Linked DNA regions of Homo sapiens. The protein of the gene in region 1 interacts with the protein of each later gene in a pairwise test. Each region holds a gene or a part of one and is shown in the gene's direction. Other genes may lie near its edges.

Region 1 (7,027 bases):
AAGGTTATTCCTATTGCTTTTAAGATACTGTATGTTGTTCCTGACTGGCATTTTTGCATTTGTTCTTTGCTGACATGAACTGGTTCTTTTCAGCTGCCATGTGAAGACCAGATCATCCTCCTCAAAGGCTGCTGCATGGAGATCATGTCCCTTCGCGCTGCTGTGCGCTATGACCCAGAAAGTGAGACTTTAACCTTGAATGGGGAAATGGCAGTGACACGGGGCCAGCTGAAAAATGGGGGTCTTGGGGTGGTGTCAGACGCCATCTTTGACCTGGGCATGTCTCTGTCTTCTTTCAACCTGGATGACACTGAAGTAGCCCTCCTTCAGGCCGTCCTGCTGATGTCTTCAGGTGAGTACGCCTAGACTCGTTAGTGGGCATCCAAAGAGCTTTTGCTTGTCTAGCGCTAATTCCAATCACTTGAGTTTTCAGTCCCCCTTTAGCTTCAGAAACATAGCTCACTCTTCTTCAGTAAGAAATTGCAGGTTTGCCAGTGGACTGGGAACTTAAAGGGGGGGCGTCAGATGTCTGATGCTTTTTGCAGTGTCCCAGGATAGAAAGAAGCCAAAGGAGCCATCTTAAAGACTCTACGAAGTGATCCGCCTTTGGTGGATACTGTGCAGCCCTCTTCGTAGTCTTTGGCCAAACCTGCCTCCTTCTGGTTTGGGGTATGCCAGATATGGATGTGAGTGACCACACGATTGTGTGTTAAGTTCTGTGTGTGGAAACCGCGGATGCAGGCTAGAATTTGTTCATGGCTTAGCTACAACTGAAGTTTTAGTTATCTGTTGCTAAATAGCACACCGACCCAAAACTTAGTGGCTTAAACATCCAAGATGGCTGGAGTTCAGCTGGGACATCAAACACTGGTTCAGGCCTCCCTCTATGCGGCCTTTCCTCCGGCAGGGTAGACTTCTTACTTGGCTGTTGATTTCCAAGAGAAAGAGTCCCAAGCACACGAAAACAGAAGTTGCAGATCCCATGAGGCCCAGTCTCAAATCACACAGGATCCCTTCATCCACACTGGATTGGCCCAAACAAGTCTGAGTGCCAGCCAGGACTCAACGGTCCCCCTGTAGATGGGAGGATAGCACAGAATGGGCAGCCGTCTGTAAGCCACTACACATCAAACCCTTTCAGGGAAGATAATTTTAAATAGAAGTGGTTTCAGAGTCCTCTGCATTTTCAGGGCACCCAAGTGTAGATGTGCTTTGGCACTTGTCACTCTGCACTGTAACTACCTGCTTCACTTGTCCACGTAAGTCCCTGTGGACTTCTTTTTTTTGAGGACATAGATGTGTCTAACTGTACATCCAGCACCTAGGCCAGTGTGCAATAGAATTCAAGAAATGCTTATTGGATAAATGGCTGAATATGTGGATAAAATATCGGTCACAAGTACATCGAGAATTCTTTGTAGAGTTGCTGCTTCCTGGTTAACTCAGTAGGAAATTTTTTTTTTTTAACCTGAGACACGGTCTTGCTCTGTTGCCCAGGCTGGAGTGCAGTGGTGTAAAGACAGCTCATCGCAGGCTTGACCTGCTGGGCTTAGGAGATTCTCCTGCCTCAGCCTCTCCAAGCACACGCCACCACCCCTGGCTAATTTTTTATTGTTTTGTAGAGAGAAACAGGTCTCACTATGTTGCCCAGTCTGGTCTTGAACTCCTGGGCTCAAGTGATCTTCTCACCTCAGCCTCCTAAAGTGCTGGGATTATAGGCATGAGCCACCACGCCTGGCCTAGAATTCTTTTTTTAAAGCTAATCTAGAAATGTATTTACTATAGGAAATTTAGATATGGCAGACTTTTAAAAAAAGAAAGAAATAATTCTTTTTATTATGGAAAATTTCAAGGGTAAGCAGATAGAATAGCATAATGAACTCCCATGTACACTGTGGCACCCAGACTCCAGACCGGCCTCCTACACTCCCCACCACCTCCTAATGTTCACACCTTGGATAATCTCCTGTCCTTCAGTGTGTGCAGGACCTGTACCTTGCTTCTAGCCAAGAGAATATGGCAAATTTGATGTCACCCCTTGTGATTACATTACATAATCTAAGATTCCCTCTTGCTGGCAGACTTGCTCTAGGGACTCTCCGTGCCAGCTTCATGAAGTAAACCGCCATGTGGGGAAAGTTCCCATGACAGGAGCTATAGATGACCTCTAGGGCTGAGGGTGGTCTCCAGTGACAGCCAGCAAGAAATGGGGCCCACAGTCGTTCAGGAGAATTAGTCTCAAAGAAATAAAATTTATAGCTTATCCAAGGACTCCTTGTGTGACTTTGGGTGACCCCTAGCTTCTCTGGACTTCAGTGACCTTTAAAATGAAGAAATTAAGCTACATACACGGGAATTATATTTCTGGAGGGACTCATGGTAATTTTTTTAGCTGAGATTTTAGAGGTACAAAGACAGTTTTAAATAATGTTGAATCACACCACGAGAAAGCTGTTTCTCTGACGGTTTTCTTCCTGGTTATATCTCCTTCCAAATAAGGCAAGGAGAGAGATTCGGTGTGGTGCTAGTCTGCCTTTAACACCTCTCTTGACACTTACCTTCTTTTTTAACAAAGAGAGAGTGGATCTCAGGAGCAATGTTCAGCCAGAACCTTCAGCTCCAAAGTAACAAAGGCTTTTGCCATGCATCTATTTTTGTGGTTATCTTCTGATTTATGTCAAATGGATTTTTATTACTGAATAATAAGATGTTTCCTCTGTAGTGGGTCAGTTTAACAGATTATTAAGCAAATAATCTAAGTAAGGTAGATAAAAGGAAAAGTAGGTGGAGATGACAAAAACTGTGAATGTGATGCCAAACACTATCAAACACCAAACTGAATGATTCTTCCCAGTTCTCTCATGTTGTGAGGCTGACACTGCCTGACAGCTACAGGACAACTTAATAACTTTTCACAATCCACCCTCCCCAGTGATGTGGACCCTCTTCATTAATACTGCCAGGACCAGAAAAATATTACAAGACATTGTGCATTTGGCAAATGATAGCTGCGTGTCAGGGCCCCAAGTCTCCAGTTCTATCATGGGGCCTGATGTTCTAAGCCCCATGTTTTGTGTGCCATTTCGGTTACACAATATCTTAGACTTTTTCTTCAAAGACTTTTCCAAGAGCCACTACTTCTAAGTTCCTTGGTCCCACAGTGCAAAGAGAAAAAATGAAAATGATCTGAAAGACATTTCTTTAAGAACTTTTGTCTTAAGGAGTTAAAATGGTCTTCAGTCTTTAAAATGTTTCTCTCTTCATAAACCTGTTCAGTGTGATTCAAGCATCATCAAAATGTCAATTTGTACTCGCTATGTCATTTACGTGGCCATCTCGTCTTTATCTCTTTGATGCCACAAAACCCACATTATATTTTTCCCTTTGAAAGAACACATCCAAAGCAATAATATGTTGATCTTCTATTTGGGTCAAAAATTAAAGGATCCTGTGGAAAATTCTTGCACACTCAAAGAAAGAGAGAAGATAGGGGAAAGGGAGAGAGGGAGAACCAGCAAATCTGCAGAGCAGCTTCATCAAATATGAAGGAAAACACAAGATAAAAATGCACGAATTGCCATTTGTGCTAAATAGGGGATTCCAAAAGCCCATATGGTTTGTTAGTTTGTTTAGACTCAGAAGGGTGAATTGAGACATTAGCCCTGATCCTTCCTTTCCAATGAAGCAGAACCCTGTTTCGATTCCTATTGATACAGACACCTCAATAATTGGACCTTTGAAGTGTGAATTCATTTGATCAGAGCCACAAAGAACAAACTGAAGAGAACTTAGCAGGGGCACGTTGGGCCTCCTGGAGCTATTTGAGGAATTCATCCGGGTTTATAGATTATTTTTGTCAGCCAAGTGTCTGCAGCCCAACTATTCCCCAGTTGCCCAGCCTCCTTGTGTCACCCCTTTGTTTGCCACTTTTGGAAACTGACTTGAGCCTCTCCCACATACTATGGGAAGCCCAGTAGTCTGCACAGGACTTGGGAAGATTTGCTGGGCTTTCCAGGGTCCCGGTGTCTTCTCACTCCAGCTCCCACTATAGCTGTTCTCTTCTCTGCATGGGGTGACTCTGGCACAGCTCCCCTCCCCTTTTCATTTCAATTCCAAAATCATGACTAATACAAGGCTGCTACTGGTAGCAATTTTACTAAAGGCATAAGGGAAGGGAAAGGCCAGTTCATTGCAGCCTGGAAGACAACACAAAATTAAACATGGTGTTTCTTGGTCCTCAAGGAAATGTCTTACTATTCCGCGTTCCTCCTTTGGCCTCAGGCCTGCTGCAATGTCCCCAGTCCCTTCATATATCTCCCCCTTCTATGCATGTCCACGCTCATCCTCTCCTCTCTGCCAGGCAGCCAGTGAAAATTCAAAATTGTTCCCCTCATCTTGCAGAATATTTCAGCTATGTCAGGCTTCTCCTTCTGTACCCTAGGAGGGAGGCATCACCTTTCACACTCAAGAAGGTAATTCACACTCAAGCTAAACTGTCTAAACAGAGATATTTATCTGAACAAAGTACTGCCTCTCTTCATATAAATGATGCCACTCCCCTGGTACCTGGTCCCTGGAGCACCAGAGTTCACGCTGCATCCATGCTCATGGCTAAGAGGGAAGACCCTAGATCTGCCCGCCCCCCAATAAAGGCCTGGAATTGGACAAAGCAAGCCTTCCCCCTTCCATCTCTGAATCAATGTCCATCTTCTCTCTTCCCCGCAGATCGCCCGGGGCTTGCCTGTGTTGAGAGAATAGAAAAGTACCAAGATAGTTTCCTGCTGGCCTTTGAACACTATATCAATTACCGAAAACACCACGTGACACACTTTTGGCCAAAACTCCTGATGAAGGTGACAGATCTGCGGATGATAGGAGCCTGCCATGCCAGCCGCTTCCTGCACATGAAGGTGGAATGCCCCACAGAACTCTTCCCCCCTTTGTTCTTGGAAGTGTTCGAGGATTAGACTGACTGGATTCATTCTCATAATTCCTACAGCACTACTGGGTGTCATTTCATTCCATTGCCTAGCTCTTTTTTGTTTGTTTCTTTGTGTTGGGAGGGATTATTTGGGAGGGAAAAGGGAAGTAGTCCTTGGCATAGACATGGATGAAATTGCCCCTTGAATGCGGGTACTTGAAACTATTGCATTTCGTTCTCCGGTCCTGTGATGTGAATGCTCTGAAGGTTTTATGGTTGTGGAGGTGGGGTGGGGGACAATCATTAACTCACCAGCACCAAGCATCACCAGCTCCCACCCGTCCCTGGTCCAAGACTTGAGTCAGCAAAATGGCGCCACAGGACACTAAAGAAGCCTTAAAACCAAGATAATACGACCACCTCCACCCAATCCTGATGTTCGCAGGGCTGAAGTTAACAGAGCACAGACCACCTTTAGTTAGATGTGGCTTTCAGCCTTTTAGGGAAAGACTCGAACAAATTTTCATCTATTCAAGAGCATGCTGTTTGCAGCACTCTTTATGGTCTCCTAGGAGCATAACTTGGAATGTACAGGAATATTTGTGTCCTAAAAAAATCAGCTGCCCTTCCAATATCATTTTTATAACGTTATGGTTTAATTCAAGTTATACAAAGGTGTGACTCAAGGATGTGCAGGTATTGACTGATGGAGGCCAACAAGGAAAATATTTTTTTTCAGTGAGCCCAGAGAAATTAGAAATCTTCACCAATGTCAGTGACTGCATGGTTTCCAAAAATTCACATAGTATTACCTCACAGTAGGAAGGCTTCTTTCCCATTTAGGCTCAGAGAACACTTTTACAGAAATCAAACCTATTTACAGGGTGGCACCCCTTTTCTGTGGCATCTGATCTGTCATCTCCCAAGCTCCTGAAGTTCTTTATCCAGGTTGTATCTTTGCTGAGCTGACAACAGATTTCTCTATGGATCAAATATTCTAATCAAGGAAAGATACGGTGAAACTTCAGTCTTCTTCTGGAGAAATGCTGAGGCGAGATTAGTGCAGCTACATTCTGAGTTGAAGGAAATGCAGTGTTCTGAGGGCCCCTTTGTGTCCTGATGGCTGGAGGACGCTTCCTCCTGGTTAGATCCTCAAGCTCCTTGCCTCATTGACAAATGTCTCCTAGTCCCCTTTTTCCCTCTGACTCTGAGGAACTAAATAGCTTGACTATCTCTAAACAGAGACTGGCCCTGCCACTGACCCTCCTGTCCCTCTCATAGCATACCCTGACAGATACTCAATAGAAAACACCTGCAGACCATGTGCACACTTAACTTTCCTGCCCAACCTGCCTCCCCAACGGCCCATGCTAGAATAGCTTGTGCCCAGAAAACAAACAGTGACACTTCATCTCTTCAGCGTCAGAAAATGGGCATAGAATGTACCCATGCAATTGAATGTATCTCATTCTCCACTGGCATAGTAGATATAAACTATTCCTTTGCCTACCTTTTACTGCCTTATCCTGGAAATATTGGGGAAAATAAGCCATATCAGTGAGATTTACCTAAAAACAAAGGAAGGAAAGTCACTATGGAAACCAAGTAGATGCTTTTTGTAAGTTTGGTGGAGCATAACTGGCCCAGAAGTCTGGGTGCCTGAGTTCTAGTTCGTGCTCTGTCAACTGGTAGATTTGTAATTCTAGGTCTTGGTTTTCTTACCTGGTGAATAAGTCATGATCTCTAAAACCCTTCCTGCCCTTAATATTGTCTGAATTTCAAGGGGAAAAAAAAAATCTGGTTCCTTTAATTATTTTTTTTTAACACTTAAATTCCTAACTTTATTAGACAAGAAGTATGGCCCACTTAACAGTTAAGGAACGTAAATTTGTTATTGGCTCGAAATAATAATTTGACACAATACTAGTCAACCATTTAGAGGCCTTGGAAAAAGAAGAGGAACAGCACTGAAAATTCCAAGTATGATTGGAAATTATCTGGGAGCGGGGAATTAAATATTCAATGCATGAAAGCAATTGTACTGGCTTCTGGGAAAAAGGAAACAAGAACATTGCTATGGAACTTGTTACCCAGAGAAAGGAAGTG
Region 2 (7,311 bases), on another chromosome or scaffold:
TCTTCAGGTTCCTTGCAACTACAGAAGAGAAAGAAAGTGAAATAAACAGGTTGTGCCCAGCAAAACTGAGATGGAGCAAAAGCATGAGGTGAGGACTGTGGGGCGAGTTTCACCCACAGAATTACGCTCCTGCTCTGGAAGTATGTTGAGAACTCCACAGGCTTTTATAGATACCTGTCATCAGAATCCAAGTACCGGCATTCAGCAAATATTTGTTGAGAGCAAGGGCCTAGTCTATTAAATACTCTAGTCCCCGAATTATAGTGTAAGCAACACATGAAAAGCTTGTTTGAAAATGCAGATTTCCAAGCCTAGCCATTCAATACCTTGGGACTGGGGCCTAGGGATCTGCACTAATATCAGGCAGCTCATTTGATTTGGGACCGTTAGTTCTTGGACTCTTATTGTTGCTTTGTAAAAACTAACCTTGGTCTCTTCAAAAGTTAGCACCCAATCAAAGTAGAGACTTGACTGGAAAATACAAACAAAATATTCTTTTGCCACCTCTTATTTGTTGTTTTTGATGTTGTTTTGTTACACACCTGAATTCTTCACTGTGTATTTTTTGACCTATTTATGGAAGATTAGTAACTTAATCTGGAATTACAAACTATCAGAAGCAACACAGTATCATTTTCACTTTTCCCCTTTCTTCCTTTCTCCCTCTGTCTGTCTCTCTCTCTCTCTCTCTCTGTGTGTGTGTGTGTGTGTGTGTGTGTCTGTCTGCCAATGTCTCTGTCTCTTTCTTTGCCTTAATGATAGTCATGACTATCATTTGTTTTGCCCTGCTGTCTGAAAAATGCAAAGTAGGTGTACAGTTGCAACTATCAAAAGCAACAATATGTACATTCTGGATCTGACTTCTCCAGTAATTTGTCATTACTTACAGCAAAAGCCTAAGGGACCCTGCCTGTGTCTGCCTGAAAGAGGAAAAGAGGGACAGTTCAAGAAGGAGGTGATCTGCAAGTCATTCTTTCCCTTGAAAACTTCCTCTCAAGCCTGGTGTGGTGGCTTGCACCTATATAACTACTCAGGAGGCTGAGGCAGGAGGATCTCTTCAGCCCAGCAGTCTGACGTGCAGTGAGCTATGATTGTGCCACTGCATGCCAGCCTGGGCAACAGAATGAGATCTTACCTCTAAAAAAAAAATTTTAATATTAAGCATTTTTTTTTCGGAATGTCAAAGATCCACAACATTCATTAGCAGTGGCATTCAATTTTTTTGACCAAGACCATACTAAAAATATATTTCATGTCACAATCCAACATACACACATACATATCTGTGTTGTGTATGTGTTTATATGAGCACATATGGAAAATAGAAACAATTATCTTATGAAACATTACTTACCTTTACCATATATACTCTGCTATTTTCTATGCTTGGCCCTTTCTTTGCTTTTCTTAGCCTTCCCTTCTCCCTTCTCCCTCTCTCTCTCTCTCTCTCTGTGTGTGTGTTTGCGTGTGTGTGTCTGTCAATGTCTCTGTCTCTTTCTTTTCCTTAATGATAGTCATGACACTATAAATGGTTTTGCCCTGCTGATTGAAAAATGTGAAGTAGGTGTACAGTTCCAACAGTTTTGAGTAGGACAAAAGAGGAGAGGAGCTGGAATTGGAAAACAAGTTTGTTCACTATTTTTTTTCTTTCTGTCTCAGTCAGTAACTCTGTTAATTTATCCAGGTCTACCTTAGCTAAGATAGTATATACATCCTACTTTTACTGTCTTAGAGGCTGATATTCCAAAGTAGTAGAAATGCTCAGTGGAATATATTGATAAACAAATGAGTCTGTACTTCTTACCAGCTTGACCTCCTCACTGTCTTCTATGTGACACCCTCATTTCTGCCCAGATGTCTTTATCTCTTAACCTAGAATTCTAGCTACCTGCTAAATCATTCTCTTTGCCTACTCTTCTTACCTCCAGGGCCACCAGTAGAGGTTTGCACTGACTTTCCCAGATCTTGAAGGCTACTAAAGGTACAAGGGAGAACACTTCATTTCCTAGAGTAGTGCTCAGCCAGGTGCAATCTACATCAAAGGAAAGATAAGCAATGCTGTTGTTTTTCAACCGAAGCTGTTATTTTCATAACTTGTAAATGAACTAAAGATTCCAAGAACTCGAGGTCCTCACAATCAGCTTTCTTCATCCAACAAGCAAGCTTCAATTTCATCGTAGCATTTTTATTGTGTGCAGTAAAAACATTCACAATTTTGTTTGCTGTTGATGATCTGAGTGTTTGGTTTTGAAAAAAAATTAACAAAGAAGCCAATTTTGTGAGTTATTTTTCATCACAGAGGAGAAATATTCACCTTAGCACTACCTTTGTTGTGGCACCTTTCCATCTCCATGAAGAAAAATAGCCATCCAGTCCAGATTGCAAGTGCTACTCAGTATCCTTCTCACACATATCTTACTAAAAATGTTTTCACTGACTTTTTCTTTATTTAACTATCAAGTATTTGGCAAATTAATATCTTGAAAGACATCTTCATTATAAATATTATTTTAATGATAAAATTATTAACTTGTAAATTTTTATCTAGCTCTAAGCAATTGGTTTTTATCTTAATTCGTTTCAGTATACTATTGTCATTCACTGAATGCCCAAGAACAGGGAATCTATCAAAAATGATTAAGATCATGTCAAAAGGACACAAGCACTAATTTGAAAGGGTATGCATTGGCTAAAGATGTGGTAATAGGAGCATTAAAAAGGTAATAATAATGATAGCAATACACTGATGCACACCAAATATGTAAAAATCCATGAGTTCATAAAGATGTTCCAAAAAAGAAAGTAATCAACCACCTCTGGAGAGTACTAGATCAATTAATGTATTCTGAAAATTACTAAAGAAAAAGTGAAATATTAAACTTCATTGCTTTTTTAATACATATTTAATACATGATATTTTTAATACATATTTGCAGCCTCTGTGTTACCAAAGTGGATTTGGCCATATTTGTAATGTAAGGCTTCAACACATTTTCCTATGATGTGAGCTTTGCCTGCTAAGATGATTCTGAAACTAACTTTGCCCAATTTTGCTTTTTCTATAATTTCATATGAATGCAATCATTCAGTGTGGTCTTTTGTATTTGACTTCTTTCGTACAGCACTTTGTTTTTGATATTCATCCATGTAGGAAAATTTTTTATTGTTTTTTATTGCTGAATAGTATTCCACTGCATGTGCTCATCACAATTTGCTTACCCATTCACTAGCGCTTTTCCTGCATCTGCTGAAAGGATTGTTTTTCCCCCTTTATTCTATTAATCCTGCCAATTACATTGATTGATTCTCAGATATTAAAAAAGCAGCTTTGCATTCCCAAGATAAGCCCCACAGGTCATGATGTATTGTCCCTTTAAATGTTGTTGAGTTTCATTTACTAAAATTTTGTTCACGACTTTTGTGTCTATGTTTATGAGTGATATTGGTCTGTAACTCTCTTTTGAAGTCTTTCACTGGTTTTGGTATCAGAGTAAATCTGGTCTCATAAAATGAATTCAGAAATATTTTTGCAATGCTCATTTTATGCCTTGCAGAACTTTGAGAAATATTACGCATAAAGTGTAACATGACGGGTGTCATTCAAATATATGTCTCAAATATAAAATAATCAGTTTTTGCCTTGTTCTTTCTTTTCCTAATTTCCGTAACAAACATGTCCTATTCGTCTTCACATCTAGTTTGAAGTTAGCTGAATTAGTGAGTGATTTATAATCACAGATTTCAGAAAATTAGAGCTAAGTGATTTTAGGGACTGTTGTCACTATATATCTAGGGGGGGAAACTGAGGCCTTTAGAAGTTGCCACGCTCTTCCAGTACAGAGTACCTTCCCACGCTTTACAGATTCCCACCATGTAACATTCATTAAAAGCCTTTATGGGTAGGAAATGAATAAGGTACCTGCTGTGTATATATTTACATTATAAAGTTTACGTATTCATTCTTACTCTTTTTCCTTCCTATGAAGACACACACTGTTCTTATTCTTACAATCTCAAAGAGAGAGCAGCGAAACAATGAAACTTCAGGATTGTGTGGCCTGGAGGCTACTAGTTGAACTGGGCATGCTCAGTCGCCAGGCAGATTTTTTTCGGTGAAGTGGAAACTACAACAGCGCGTACCGCGCGCGGAGGTGGGCGTGCCCTCGTGGAATTTAGAACGTTGCCTCAGCCAATGGGGCCTCGCGGCCGGCTGGCGGGGCTCCTCATTGGAGCAGCAGGGAGGCGAGCAGAGGGCCCCCAGAGGGAGCCGCGGAGGTGCAGGTCGAAGAGGCCGGGCTACGTCGTGCCCTGCGCGTGAGCAGCTGCAGAGGCAGAGGCAGCATCCAGCGGCGGCGCCAGCAGTTCCAGTCCGTTGCTTTACTTTTTGCTTCACCGACATAGTCATTATGCCGAAGAGAAAGGTAAGTCTTACCAAAAAAAGATTTCAAAAGCCTTCAAATTCTGCTTACAGTAAATGCTGGCATTGCAATGGCTCGCGCAGAACGCGCGCGGTAGTAACCCGGGGATTGGGAATCTTTGCTCCTCCACGCTTGTTTTTAGATGCCTGTTGCAGACGTTCCTCTCTCTGTCCCCCCTACCCACTCCGTCCTCATCGATCTCTTAATGTTACTTTCTCTCCAGTGACGCGGTTTCCCTTCTTTTTGAACTCATTCTCGCTGGAATGTTTTCCACCCCCAACAACAAGAAGCAAAAGCGGCTTTCCATTCCGAAAGGGAGTTTCCTCTTTGCAAACTGCCAGGTTGCGAATTAGTGTGAAGGGAAAACAGCGAGAGGAGAAAAACAAGTACAAGCGTAAGGAGAGGGAAGAAAATAAATCAGGCAAATGTTGGGATTATTCCCATGCGGCTGTACTCGCGGGCTGGGTGCGCTGCGGTGGCTCCTAGGCTAAGGGAAAGAGAAAGCCATGTTTAAAATAGCGCTCACCCTCCTGCTCGCCTCCGCTGCAGACCCGTATGTACCAACTCCAGTGTCAATCAGGGCTGGGGCCGGCGAGGCGGGGCCTGGCGGCCTGGACCTACCCGCAGTTCGGGGCGGGAGCGGTGGAGTTGGCAGCGTGGAAGACGGGACGGCGCCGGGGCGTCCAATATGGCTCGTCCAAGGTCAGGGGGCCACCAGGTCCTCCCCAGCGACTGGAACCCACACTCGGTTGGGGAAGGCGGGGTCCGCGCGCTATCCGCCCCTCTGCGCGTCTAGCGAACTGGAGTCATTTTTGTCTTGTCTTCCGCCCCTTGCGGACTGTCCTCTTCTGCGCAGGCCCCGGACACCAACTACTACATTCAGGGACACAAATCTCCCTCGGGGTGGGGCTTCGACTTGTCCCGGGGAGGGAAGGGAAAGGTTTCCTCCTCCCTGAGAAATCAGTGAGGATTTCTCAGCTGGTTCCTAAGCAAGTGCTTTGCACCCTCCCACCGCCAGCCTCAGTGTTTCCAACAGTGTCAACGAGTGTGGGTATTAAATTTGAAGCAAAATTACACCTAATGTCTTGCTTTATCAAAGACCATGGACTAATTTGTGTGTGAGAGTGACTGCATTATTTTAAAATACTGAAGTTTTAAAAATTCAAAAGCTTTCCCCTTCTTATATGTTATTACTAAAAATTGGGTAGAAACTTGTCTCCTACCCCACTTTTTAAAAATAATTGAAAGTGTTTAAAAGTCTTAGAGTTTGTTGTGCACATACTGTGTCCCTCACGCTGTGCAGAATTTGACTTGCATTATCTCATTTAATCCTGAAAACAGCTTGAGCGGTGTTACCCCCATTCAGCTGGGACTTAAAGACATAAATTGTCCTGCATCTCACCAACCAATAACTACTAGTAAAGATTTAATCAGATGCTATAGATGCCAAAGTCTTATTCTCACCCATTTCGTACTCACTTACGAAAGGGTGGGTCAAGAGGAATTAAGGAAATCCAAAGGTACTCCCAGTTTAAGAAGACAGATGGCATATTAAGAGCACTAATACTTGAGATTTATTATTTAAACTTAATTTTATGAAGGTATTTTCTAGCCCTGTTTTACTAGAATTAGGATATTAAGTGATGTCACCATTTTCAGCATTTTGACTGAGGGTTAATGATGGATTGGAAATTCTAGTAGAGACAAAGGAACTAATCATCAAGATACGGGTTACAGAGTAAGTGAGCTGGAGGCCATCTTTTTTTCCTGGGAATTATAACCATTGTTTACATAAACAGTAGGTTAGGTGTGCACACTTTATGTATAATGGACCCTGACGATGGAACCCTTCCTTGCTGTTTATTCAAGGGCCAGAGCTGCTGAAACCATTATTCTTACTTCCCCTGTCTGCCTCTCTCAAGGAGACGGAAGGAAAAAAAAAAAAAACTAAAATAACAGTAAAATTACAGCTACAGTTTTATTTCCCTGGAAGGCAGGGAACCCCCATGCATAAGCTAGCCAATGGTCCTGAGACTAGGGGCAAAACTGTGTACAGGCACCTGTGTGTCATTCCTGAGGACATCAGAGTGTTCTCCGGTGATGGAAAACCTCTCCTTGATTAATAGGAAGGCTTTCCATTTATACCTGAAGCCTAACGACCTCAGTTGGTACCTGGGCAGGAACAACCTCAGATTAAACACGGCGATCATGGCCATCCATCTATCAGTCAAGTCTTAGAGCAGCCTCATGGAATCCTGAAGTTCACTGGAACTTATGTGAGGAACCACTGTCATTAGGTAAAGCCTGCTTAGATACAAAAAAGAACTGGAGACAATCCATGCATAGCTCTTCAAGATCTTCAAAGCTGGGGTAACTGCCAAAGCATTTACATACTACACAATATTTTTCTTGACTAAAGAATTGTCTGCTCTACAATATAATAAGCTTTTAAAATGTCCCCCTAGTACTTTTTTGCCTTCTTAGCCCCCTGTATCAACCTTTCCTAGAAATCAAGAAATGTTATTTAATGAACATCTGAGTAAGTTGTTCTGCAGAGCAAGAAGTGGTACAGATAAAGTCAATGAAAACATCTGGAATCCTAGCCCTGTTGTAATGCTGTAGGGACATACAGTTTTTGCCCTCTTGGAACTTGTGTTTAATTCAATGAGGTGATAAGACTAGCAGCACAAAACAGTTGAATAACATTAAAACTGTGTATGTGTTCCAGAATGTGTAGTTATAGATCCCACAAGCAGTAGGACAGATAAGGAAAGTTAACTTTAGGCTGGTCTTAAAAGTGTGGGTAGGACTCAAATATACAAAGAAGTCAGAGTCATTTTTTGTTACCAGGTATTCAAGTGTGTCTCCTGATTGTATCTTAACATGACCAGGC

Evidence for each region.
Region 2: the proteins of THRB (region 1) and HMGN3 interact in a two-hybrid assay, tested with the Homo sapiens proteins (one study listed by BioGRID).

The regions. Positions count from the first base shown.
Region 1 is NC_000003.12:24,120,824-24,127,850, reverse strand, and holds part of THRB (thyroid hormone receptor beta), read left to right. Parts: intron 1-93; coding exon 94-352; intron 353-4,725; coding exon 4,726-4,967; 3' UTR 4,968-7,027.
Region 2 is NC_000006.12:79,231,656-79,238,966, reverse strand, and holds the start of HMGN3 (high mobility group nucleosome-binding domain-containing protein 3), read left to right. Parts: upstream 1-4,284; 5' UTR 4,285-4,406; coding exon 4,407-4,421; exon of another isoform or gene 4,422-4,905; intron 4,906-5,039; exon of another isoform or gene 5,040-5,293; intron 5,294-7,311. UniProt on the Homo sapiens protein: Binds to nucleosomes, regulating chromatin structure and consequently, chromatin-dependent processes such as transcription, DNA replication and DNA repair.